Linked DNA regions of Homo sapiens. The protein of the gene in region 3 purifies or fractionates together with the protein of the main gene of each other region. This does not show direct contact. Each region holds a gene or a part of one and is shown on either strand. Other genes may lie near its edges. The genes, in order: KIF24, CEP97 and KIAA0586.

The links.
Region 1: the proteins of KIAA0586 (region 3) and KIF24 purify together in Homo sapiens (co-immunoprecipitation; one study listed by IntAct). This does not show direct contact.
Region 2: the proteins of KIAA0586 (region 3) and CEP97 purify together in Homo sapiens (co-immunoprecipitation; one study listed by IntAct). This does not show direct contact.

What each region holds. Positions count from the first base shown.
Region 1 is NC_000009.12:34,305,145-34,308,798, forward strand, and holds part of KIF24 (kinesin-like protein KIF24), read right to left. Parts: intron 1,298-3,654; coding exon 1,108-1,297; intron 1-1,107. UniProt on the Homo sapiens protein: Microtubule-dependent motor protein that acts as a negative regulator of ciliogenesis by mediating recruitment of CCP110 to mother centriole in cycling cells, leading to restrict nucleation of cilia at centrioles.
Region 2 is NC_000003.12:101,759,009-101,762,662, reverse strand, and holds part of CEP97 (centrosomal protein of 97 kDa), read right to left. Parts: intron 179-3,654; coding exon 103-178; intron 1-102. UniProt on the Homo sapiens protein: Acts as a key negative regulator of ciliogenesis in collaboration with CCP110 by capping the mother centriole thereby preventing cilia formation. Required for recruitment of CCP110 to the centrosome.
Region 3 is NC_000014.9:58,434,212-58,437,865, reverse strand, and holds part of KIAA0586 (protein TALPID3), read right to left. Parts: intron 1-3,654. UniProt on the Homo sapiens protein: Required for ciliogenesis and sonic hedgehog/SHH signaling. Required for the centrosomal recruitment of RAB8A and for the targeting of centriole satellite proteins to centrosomes such as of PCM1.

The DNA.
Region 1 (3,654 bases), on a different chromosome or scaffold from region 3:
GCAAGGTACCTTCAGCTTGGAATAAGTTTCTTTCAATACCAAACTCTTTCTCCTTGGACTCTTCATAATCACTCTAGCAGGCAGTGAACATTATTTACATGGCTGAGTTATTAGTGTTTTATTTAAACCCTTATATGTTAGATGTGAAATCATATCTCTGGATTTTATTTACCCACTGCAATCTACCCTGTATAAAGTGGTCTGCTCAGAGCCCAATTTTCGCCAATTAAGTATAAGCCCAAGACAGCTGAGAATCAAAATAAGCACGTGGCTGGCAATTGTCGGTCCTGTTGCCCAAAAAGATATTGTCCATCATTAAACCCAAGTCTCAAAGTCAGCAGAATGAGAAGTTCACACTGTGAGATGCAAGCAAGAATGGAAATCAACTGTGTGACATCTCATAGTCATATATTCAGTGACTGGTCCTGTTGACAACTACTTAATTATTTATTTGTTTTTTATTTTTATATTCTTTTAGAGGCAGATCCTCCCTCTGTTGCCCAGGCTGGAGTGCAGTGGTGCAATCATAGCTCACTGTAATGCAGAACTCCTGGGCTCAAGTGATCCTCCTGCCTCAGCCTCCTGAGTAGTTAAGACTACAGGTACACACCACCATGCTGGGCTAGTTTTAAGATCTTTTCTGGAGAGACAGGATCTCGCTATGGTGCCCAGGGTGGTCTCAAACTCTTGGGCTCAAGTGATCCTCCCACTGCAGCCTCCCAAAGCACTGGGATTATAGGCGTGAGCCACCACACCTGGCCCCACTTCATTATTTAAATTATTTTTATTCCTTCATTCCTCCTTTTTTTTGCTGAATATGTATAATTAAATTCACACAAAGCATGTTAAGTGAATATATGATGTAGCTCCACTGCACAAGAGAAATTGTTTTTGTATCCCCTATTGCACCGTCTTTTGAAAAAATGAAGGCCCTGGATATCAATGACTTAATACAGTGTCACATCAGGAATGAATGTCAACACCCGAACCAGAAACTTGATTTTCAGTGTTCTAACAGAAACTTGTATGCCACCACTCAAACAAAAAGCAAAAAAAAATGACATACTTGATAATATTAGTTCCAAACATAAAACGAAAACATCATACCTGCAGAATATATTGAGTGAGGTCAACTGCTTCTTTCTTCTCATGCACAAGTAGAGTTTCTTTGTCTTCTACAGTAATAATATTAATTTCTCCACGACGTACCTCCCTCATGCCCAGGGGGCGTTTTCGAACACAAACTCTGATTTTCTCCATCTCAGTCCAAGGATTCTGTTTCTCTGAAGTGTTCTGTCTAATATGTTTATAAACAGGCTTTTAATTTTTAATAATAGGACAAGATTACTTAACAGGTCAAAGTATTGGTACCTTTTAGCCGGGCGCGGTGGCTTACGCCTGTAATCCCAGCACTTTGAGAGGCCGAGGTGGGCGGATCACGATGTCAGGAGATCAAGACCATCCTGGCTAACACGGTGAAACCCCATCTCTACTAAAAATACAAAAAATTAGCCAGGCATAGTGGCGTGCGCCTGTAATCCCAGCTACTTGGGAGGCTGAGGCAGGAGAATGGCGTGAACCCGGGAGGCAGAGCTTGCAGTGAGCCGAGATTGCGCCACTGCACTCCAGCCTGGGCGACAGAGCCAGATTCTGTCTCAAAAAAAAAAAAAGTATTGGTACATTTTGCTGTATATTAGGCATAATATATTTCTTAAAGTTACAAAGTAAAGTGTCAACCCTGAGAAAGTTCTTCTATCTCCATCCCCACCCTGCTCCGCCCTTTTCCTTGCAAAAACACAAATAACAGAACAACAACAAAAAACCAACCAACAAACAAAAAACCCCTAAGAGATCATATATAGAATACTATTTTATACAATTGTTTCATATCAATTCTGATTTCCTTAGCCCTCCAACTGGCTGCTGAAAAAAAATTTTTTTTGAGATAGGATCTCACTCTGTCACCCAGACTGGAGTACAGTGGCACAGCCATGGCTCATTGCAGCCTCAACCTCCAGGGTTCAAGAAATTCTACCTCAGCCTCCTAAGTAGCTAGGACTATAGCATACAACACCGCAGCTGGCTAATTTTTGTAATTTTTGTAGGGACAGGGTCCCACTATCTTGCCCAGGCTGGTCTTCAACTTATGGCCTCAAGCAATCCTCCCATTTTGGCCTGTCAAAGTGCTGGGATTACAAGCATCAGTCATCACGCTCAGCCTGGAGAATAATTTTTTTACTGGGATCTGAATTGGTTTAAAAAAAAAAAAACCAGCAAATAATTTTCTAATATAATGAATGCATAAAGCACTAATTTTATGGCATGTTTTAAAGCAAATTTTATTTTCTTAACCAACATTTAGGGACTTTAAAATGCATCATTTTTGCATGAAACTGCAGATGGAATAAATAAATGACAGAATAAATGAAATGTACCATTTTGAGGTACTGTGGGAAAATCGTGACAATCATTGAAACTGGATGACGGGCCAGGTGCGGTGGCTCACGCCTGTAATCCTAGCACTTCGAGAGGCTGAGGCGGGCAGATCACTTGAGGTCAGGAGTTCGAGACCAGCCTGGCCAACATGGTGAAACCCCATCTCTACTAAAAATATAAAACTTAGCTGGGCATGCTCACTTAAACCCAGGAGGTGGAGTTCACAGGTGAGATAGTGCCATTGCATTCCAGCCTGGGCAACAGAGCAAGACTCTGTCTGAAAAAAAAAAAAAAAAAAAGAAAAAAGAAAAAGAAATTGGATGATGGACATATTGGGATTCAGTGTTCTATTTTTTTCTTCTTTTGCATATGTTTGATTTTTCACAAGAAAAGGGAATTTTTTGTTTTGAGACAGGGTCTTGCTCTATCACCCAGACTGGAGTGCAGTGGTGCGAGCATAGCTCACTGAAGCCTCAACCTCCTGGGCTGAAGCCATCCTCCCACTTCAGCCAATAGTAGCTGGAACTACAGGTGCACACCATCATGTCTGGCTAATTTTTGTATTTTTGTAGAAACAGGGTCTCACCATGTTGCCCAGGCTGGCCTCGAACTCCTGGGCTCAAGCAATCTGCCTGCCTTGGCCTCCCAAAATGCCAGGATTGCAGGCATGAGCCACTGTGCTCATCAAAAATGAAAATTTTTAATGCTTTTTTTTTTTTTTGAGACAGAGTTTCATTGTGTCACCCAGGCTGGAGTGCAGTGGCACAATCTTGGCTCACTGCAACCTCTGCCTCCTGGGTTCAAGCGATTTTCCTACCTCAGCCTCTAGAATAGCTGGGACTGCAGGCACCTGCCATGACGCTCTGCTAATTTTTGTATTTTTAGTAGAGATGGGGTTTAGCCATGTTGGCCAGGCTGACCTTGAACTCCTGACCTCAGGTGATCCACCCGCCTTGGCCTCCCAAAGTGCTGGGATTAGAGGTGTGAGCCACTGTGCCTGGCCTAATGCATCATTTTAATAAGGGTTTTGTGTTAAAATCTTTAGTTGTTGGATATCAATAACCTAATCATATAAAGCTGATCAAAGAGGATAGAAAATGTTTGGTCCTTTTTAAAATTGTTCAGGGCTCTAGGATGACTCATATGAACAAAAGGCCCATAGTTTCAAGTTCAAGGAGCAAAAAGACATGCATGTTTTTTTAAAAAGCTCTAGTTTGG
Region 2 (3,654 bases), on a different chromosome or scaffold from region 3:
GAACAAGAGTGCTTAATACACCTGAGTACTCTATGATTATCTCAATGAATATAGAATCTGTATTTGATCATATATGAGGTAAATCAGCAGGAGGGAGTTTACCTGGTTCCAAAGGAATCTGAAAGCTTCTTCTTGTACAAATTTTTTAATACGTTCTTCATCTCTTTCTTTTCGTAATCTACAATAATTCAAAACACATTATTGACATAAGGAAGGGTGCTTTGACTCAGACTTCCTGTTACAACTCATAAACACATGCATTGTAAAGAGATTAATAATCTAATAGTTGTCTTTCCCACTTTTAGAATATCTAAATTAAAACCTTATTTTATTTTTATTTTTTTAACCTCAGAATCAAAATGGAACAGTTTTATAAGTGACATCATAAACCTTAATTTTGAACTGTGACTCAAAGTAGAAGCCAAAGGAGATATGACTGAAATACAGGTATTAGTTCTACAAAGTATTTCCAGTAATAAGAAATAAAATAAAATGTTAAATGGCTCTTTGTCTGGCTTCAATTTCTCAGCCAAACAAACCAAAGGAACAGAAAGTGCAAAAAAGGAGTGGCTATCCAAAGCCTCCAAAACAATTAAGGGTCACATTTAAGTACTCGTGATCCAGCTTGAAACACCCTCTGCTAAAGACTAATCCCATCAAACTTCACTATTCTGTTTCCCCAGGTCTCCGACCTACTCCTTGCTAACAAGAGACCTCCCATCCATTATTCCTCATTCATTCATCAAAGTCTGAGGTCTGGGCTCACTGCTGTTCTCTCCATACTTAGGCCTATCACAAACCTAAGGCTCCTCCTTTAGTGATCCATTATCACCCAAACTGTCAAGACCATTTTGTTCCACACCTCTGACCCAATTCTCCACTTTCTCTAGCCCCCCAAGCCTTTCTCCTGTGCCATCTAGAACTCCTGAATTATAATTAGCAAACTCCCTTATATACTCCATCTCTCTCTGAACTTTTCCTTGTCCAAAGCAGACCCACTTCTGAGAGCACTATAGCCCTCTGAAGTGGAAGCTATTTTTCCCTGTCACACATCAGGGTTCAAAAATTGCTTCTCACTATTGTTTTCAAATGATTCTTCATCTCCCTCCTTTAACTCCTGCCATCCTGCTAAATTTCCCAAAATTCGTTGTCAAGTACTGACCTCCCACCATCTGCTCCCATTCAATGAAGTCTCAGCACCAGGCTTTCTCTTTGCCCCATACCTGTCATCGTTTTTGGAGACCTCAACATTCACATGGATGCTCTAACAATAATCCACCCCATGTCAGTCACCCATTCTCATAGTCTCACCCTAGACCAAATCATTTTGACTACACTACTTTCAGAAATGGTTCTAAGCACCCAACACCAACCACTACTTCCTATCCTCCCAGTTCACTTGCTGTTGTACCCCACTGCAACAATCTAGACCTTCAGTCCAATGATCCTTCCCCCCTGCCTTCACTTCCCTTTTACCTCATTTAAAATTCCAGCCAGCCTGGGCACAGTGGCTCACACCTGTAATCCCAGCACTTTGGGAGGCCCAGGCAGGAGGATCACCTGAGGTCAGGAGTTTGAGACCAGCCTGGCCTACATGGTGAAACCCTGTCTTTACTAAAAATGCAAAAAAAAAATTAGCTGGGCATGTGGCAGGTGCCTGTAATCCCAGCTACTCGGGAGGCTGAGGCAGGAGGATCACCTGAACCTGGGAGGCAGAGGTTGCAATGAGCTGAGATCGCACCATTGCACTCCAGCCTGGGTGACAAGAGCAAGACTCCATCTCAAAAAAAAATTTTTTTAGATAAAAAATAAAAATAAAATTCCAGTCAGCAAGGTAATTCACACCTGTAATCCCAGAACTTTAGGAGGCTGAGGCAGGAGGACTGCTTGAGGCCAGGAGTTCAAGACCAGATGGGCAACATAGACTTCATCTCTTTAAAAAAATTTTTTTTAATTAGCTGGGCATGGTGGTGCATGCCTATAGTCCCAGCTACTTGGGAGCCTCAAGTGGGAGAATCACTTGAACCCAGGAGTTCAAGATTACAGTGAGCTATGATCACGCCACTACACTCCAGCCTCAGCAAGAGGGCAAGACCCCATCTCAAAAAACATATAAAATCTAAGATCTATCATTATTACTCCCTCTCAAATATCTTCAGCTCTCTTGCCCTTCCCCTGCTCTCTCTACAATATCACCTAGGAAAAAAAATCATTCCTGGCTGAACCAAATTAACCATGCCTGAATCAGACCAGAGCAGCTAAGAATTGCTGATGAAAATCATACAACCTGACCTATTGTTTTGCACTTTTAAGCATTTTCTCACATTGTCCAGCAACCCTCCTCCATTTTCCTCATAAGGTCATGTTTAAGATAACTACCTCACACCTCATACTTCTCTCCTTACACCTCCTTCACCCTCTCCTCATTTTCAGGTGTTGACCACATCTTATACATTATTGAAAAAGAAGCAGCATCAGACAGGACTTTTTCCCATCTCCCACCATCAAACCTACCACCTTACCTGCTCCTGCTCCCATTTCAGGCCACTTCCTCTACTTCGACACTACATTTCTTCCTCTCTTACCTTCTCAAGAACTGCAATCCTGCTCTTCCTCTTTTTTTTTTTTTTTTTTTTTTTTGCTGCACCATCAGTTTTTCCCTCCTTATTTATTCATTCCATCAACACATGAACAAACTCTATATCTCTCATCTACAAAAGAGAATGTTCCTTTAATCTAGATTCTCCTCCAGACACCACTTAACTCTCTTTTCTCTTGTTTTCCTCAAAACAACTCTTTCCAAGAATTGGCTACACTCATCCTTCAAACTCTTTACCTCTCATTCACTATTCAACCCATTCCAAAATGGCCTTCATCCCTCTACACCACTGAAGCTGCTCTTGGGAAGGTCACTGTGCAGTAAAGAGTTAACTCAGCAGGATGGGGATGTTCAAACACTGTACATTGCAAAGATAAGACTGGCCCTTGACTGACTCCTGGGAGATAATCTCCAAGCCCTTGGAATATCCTGACTGAAAAAGAATATCTTTATACACCTGGGGTCTTGGTCACATCAGATAGTTTAGGCAATCAATGATTTCTAGTCAACATCTGTTTTGTTCGCCTGGGGTCCTGGGTCCTGGGCCATGGAGTATCAGTGTGACCTCTATGTGGTCTGAGGTGTAAATAGTTAAGATCAGTTACATGGGTACTCAATACCTATGTGACTGGCCCACAATAAAAACCCTGGACACCAAAGATGAGGTAACTTTCGTCAGTTGGCAATACTTCATATGTGTTATCATACATCATTGCTGAGAAAATTAAGCCCTGTCTGTACAACTCCACTGAAAGAGAACAACTGGAAGCTTGCACCTCATGTCTCCTAGACTCTGCCCTAGGCACCTTTTTTCTTTACTGATTCTAATCTGTATCCTTTTGCTGTAATGAACCATAATGACGAACAGAATAGTATTTTCCCAAGTTCTGTGAGTCCTTTTAGCAAATCATCCAACCTGAGGATAGTCTGGAGAATCACCAACACAGTCACCAATAGCCTCCAACTGCCAAGTTTAATGCCTGTGTCCTCTCTGTGGCACCTCTCATCTCTCCTGAAACACTTGCTCCTGTTGAAGGTGGAACTCTCCTAGTTTT
Region 3 (3,654 bases):
AGCCATCTCTCTTTCACTATCATAACCTCATTGAATCACTTCAACTATTCCCAGAGCTTAGACTTAGACTACCACTTACATAATGATGACTTCTGCATCTTAATTTCCAGCTTGGATCCCTTTTGTGAACTTGGCCTTTTTTTTTTTTTTTTTTTTTTTTTGAGACAGGATCTCACTGTCACCCAGGCTGGAGTGTATTAGCATAACCATGGCTCACTGCAGCCTCAACCTCTTGGGCTCAAGTGATCCTCCTGCCTCAGCCTCTCAAGTAATGAGGAGTACAAGCACATGCCACCCCACCTGGCTAATTTATTGTTTTTAGAGATGGGGTCTTGCTATGTTGCCCAGGCTGATCTCAAACTCCTAGGTTCAAGCCATCCTCCCAGCTTGACCTCCCAAAGTGCTGAGATTATAGGCATGAGCCACTGTCTGGCAACTTGACCTTTATATTCCATTTTCTCCTGAACACTTCTTACCCACATTTCTCACAGGAACCTCAAACCCTTGCCCATGCCCAGAATAAGTTATCCCCCACAAGGATTTCCTTTCTCAATGAGTAATACTACTCACCATGTATTTGTGAAAGCCAAAAATCTGGGATTCAACCTTAGTGCCTTCCTTACCCTCATATCTAATTAATGATTCCTGTCAATTCAATCTCCTAATCATCTTCCAAATTTGTCTCTTCCTCTCCAACTGAGCATGATTCCCATTACCATACCACCACTGCCCAGTGTATTCAGGACCAATCTAACTCACTCCTCCCTGAAAACTCCAGAGCCAATTCATTTGCTGGACTATAGTCTAGCCCTCTTCCAATCCATTTCTTCATATGGCTACCAGAGTGAGTATTTTAAGAAATATATCTAATTCTTTAAAACTTTTCAATGATTTGCCATTTATCTTATATTAAAGACCAAATTCCTTTAGGGGAGTTCATAACCTAGTCCCTTGCTTATCTCTCCAGTCACACACAAGGGAGTTCTCCCGTTGTTCTAGACACTCTAGCCAGATTCTTCATTCCTCTAAGGCTTTAGAGTACATTATAATATCAATTAAGGCAAGTTCTCCATCATCCCATTTTTGTTTTTGCTTTTCCAAATTTATCTTAGCTATTCCAAACTGAATGTATTCTATATGGATGTATCCTTAATTCTGTGTGTATGTATATACACACATATACAGTATAAATATATACATACAGTATACACACAGGCACATACTTTTTTTTTCTCAACAGTATGTTCTTCTAGGTAAGTGTTAGAATTACATTTCCAATTTACATCTACCACTTATTCTCAAAATAACAAAAAATTTTAAGACTGACCACAGCCAAACATATGCTAATTTTGTAATAACTTGTATTTTTACAGCGCTTAGTCTTCCCATCCAAGAACATGTTGAGTCTCTTAATTTATCTTAGCCTTTGGTTATTTCCCTTGACAAAATTTCATACTTCTTCAGACAGATTCTATAGACTTCTGGTTATGAGTATTCCCAACTTTTTTTTTTTCGGTGGGGACATTGCTATGGTAATTGTTATTTCATTTTATTATTGAATAATATGCTGAGTATCTGGTCACCTTCCTGAACTTCCATTAGTGTAAAAATTTCTGAGTTAGTGGTCTCTTGGATATTCTGAATACACAATATTTTCTACAAATTATAACTTTGCCTCCTCTTTTTCAATATCCATAACTGATTTCATTTTCTTATCTAACTGCTACAACTAAGGCTTCCAAATTAAGTTTAAAAAATAATGGACATCTTGTCTTGTTCCCAATTTTACTGTTAAACAGGGTATTGACTGCAGGTTTCCAATAAACATTGTCCTTCATGTTAAGAATGTATCATTCTGGCTGGGCACGATGGGTCAAGCCTGTAATCCCAGCACTTTAGAAGGCCAAGGTGGGCAGATCGCCTAAGGTCAGGAGTTTGAGACCAGCCTGGCTAACATGGCAAAACCCCGTCTCTACTAAAAATACAAAAAATCAGCCGGGCATGGTGGCACATGCCTGTAATCCCAGTTACTCAGGAGGCTGAGGGAGGAGAATCACTTGAACTGGGGAGGCGGAGGTTGCAGTGAGCCAAGATCACACCGTTGCATTCCAGCCTGGGTGACAAGAGTGAAACTCCATCTTAAAAAAACAAAAAAGGAATGTATCATTCTATTCTTAAAGAAGTTTGTGGGTATTATGTGTGTATGTGGTGACTGAGTATAAAATGGGTATGGAAGGGGGGCATAGGGAGAGATTTGTTAAAGGATACAAAATTACAGCTACATAGGAGGAATAAGTCAGGAATACGTTACAGCTAGATAGGAGGAATGACTATAGTAGGATGAGTATAGTTAACAATAATGTGTTACACGGTTAAAAGGAGGATATTGAAGGTTCCTAACACAAAGAAATGATAAATGTTTCAGATGATGGATATGCTAATTACCATGATCTGATCACTACACATTATAAGTACAACACTACGTACCCTACAAATAGGTACAATTATTTGTCAATTTAAAAAATAAAAAAATTAAGAAGATATGGGCATAAAATGTCATTAAATGTGACTGTAGTGCTTGCCACATATATTTTCTTATTTGATCAAATGATATAAATGTATTAATAGATCATGAATTATTGTAGTGGCGCAATGGTTAAGAGCACTGTCTCTGGAGAGAGACTGCCTGGGTGACTTAAACCCTTCTATTCCTTAAGCTTGAAACATTATTAGACGTGCTAGGCTTTTGTAAAGATCAAGTAGTATGTAAGAAGTGCAGCCAGGTATGTTGGCTCATGCCTGTAATTCAAGCACTTTCAAAGGCTGAGACGGGAGGACTTCTTGTGCCCAGGAGTTTGAGACCAGCCTGGGCAATATAGTGAGACCCTATATCTACAAAAAGTAAAAAAGTTAGCTGGATGTGGTGGCACATGCCTGTAGTCCCAGCTACTCTGGCGGGGGGGCGGTTAGGGGGACCTCAGGTTGTAGGATTACTTGAGCCTGGGAGGTCAAGGCTGCAGTGAGCCGTGAACCTACCCATGAACTCCAGCCTGGGTGACAGAGCGAGATCCTGTCTCAACAAAATAAAAAACAGAAAGTAAAACAAAAATAAAGAAGTGCAGAGGACAGTGGCTGGTGCATAAGTGTTACATCAGAATTTGCTATTACCATTTTTAAAACATTGCTGCATTCCAATCACTGTGTATTAATCTTTTAACATATGATAAAATATAATTTACTCATAACTTATTTAAAGAACTAGGTTTGTTTAAATTACAATAGCATGATGAAAATATCTCTGATGAAACTAATTGTTAGGTGTTGATACTTGGGCTAGGTTAGCATCATAAAATGACATGAGGGGCATTCTTTGCTTTTCATTGCTCTGGAGCAGAATATATAGCATGATCATAATCTGTTTCTTAAAATTTTTCAAGAACTCAAACAAAATCATGACTGCTTTTGGAGATTGCTCTTTGAAGGTTTTTTTTAAATTTATTTCCCAGTAACTGGCCTATTAAAATCTTCTTAGTTATATGGTTATTTTTGGTGAGTTATTTCTTTCATCTAGATTTCTTAATTTGTAGCATTCATGTACACAGTATTCTTAATACACTGTATTCTTAATACCTTCTAAGTCTATCATTATGTCCT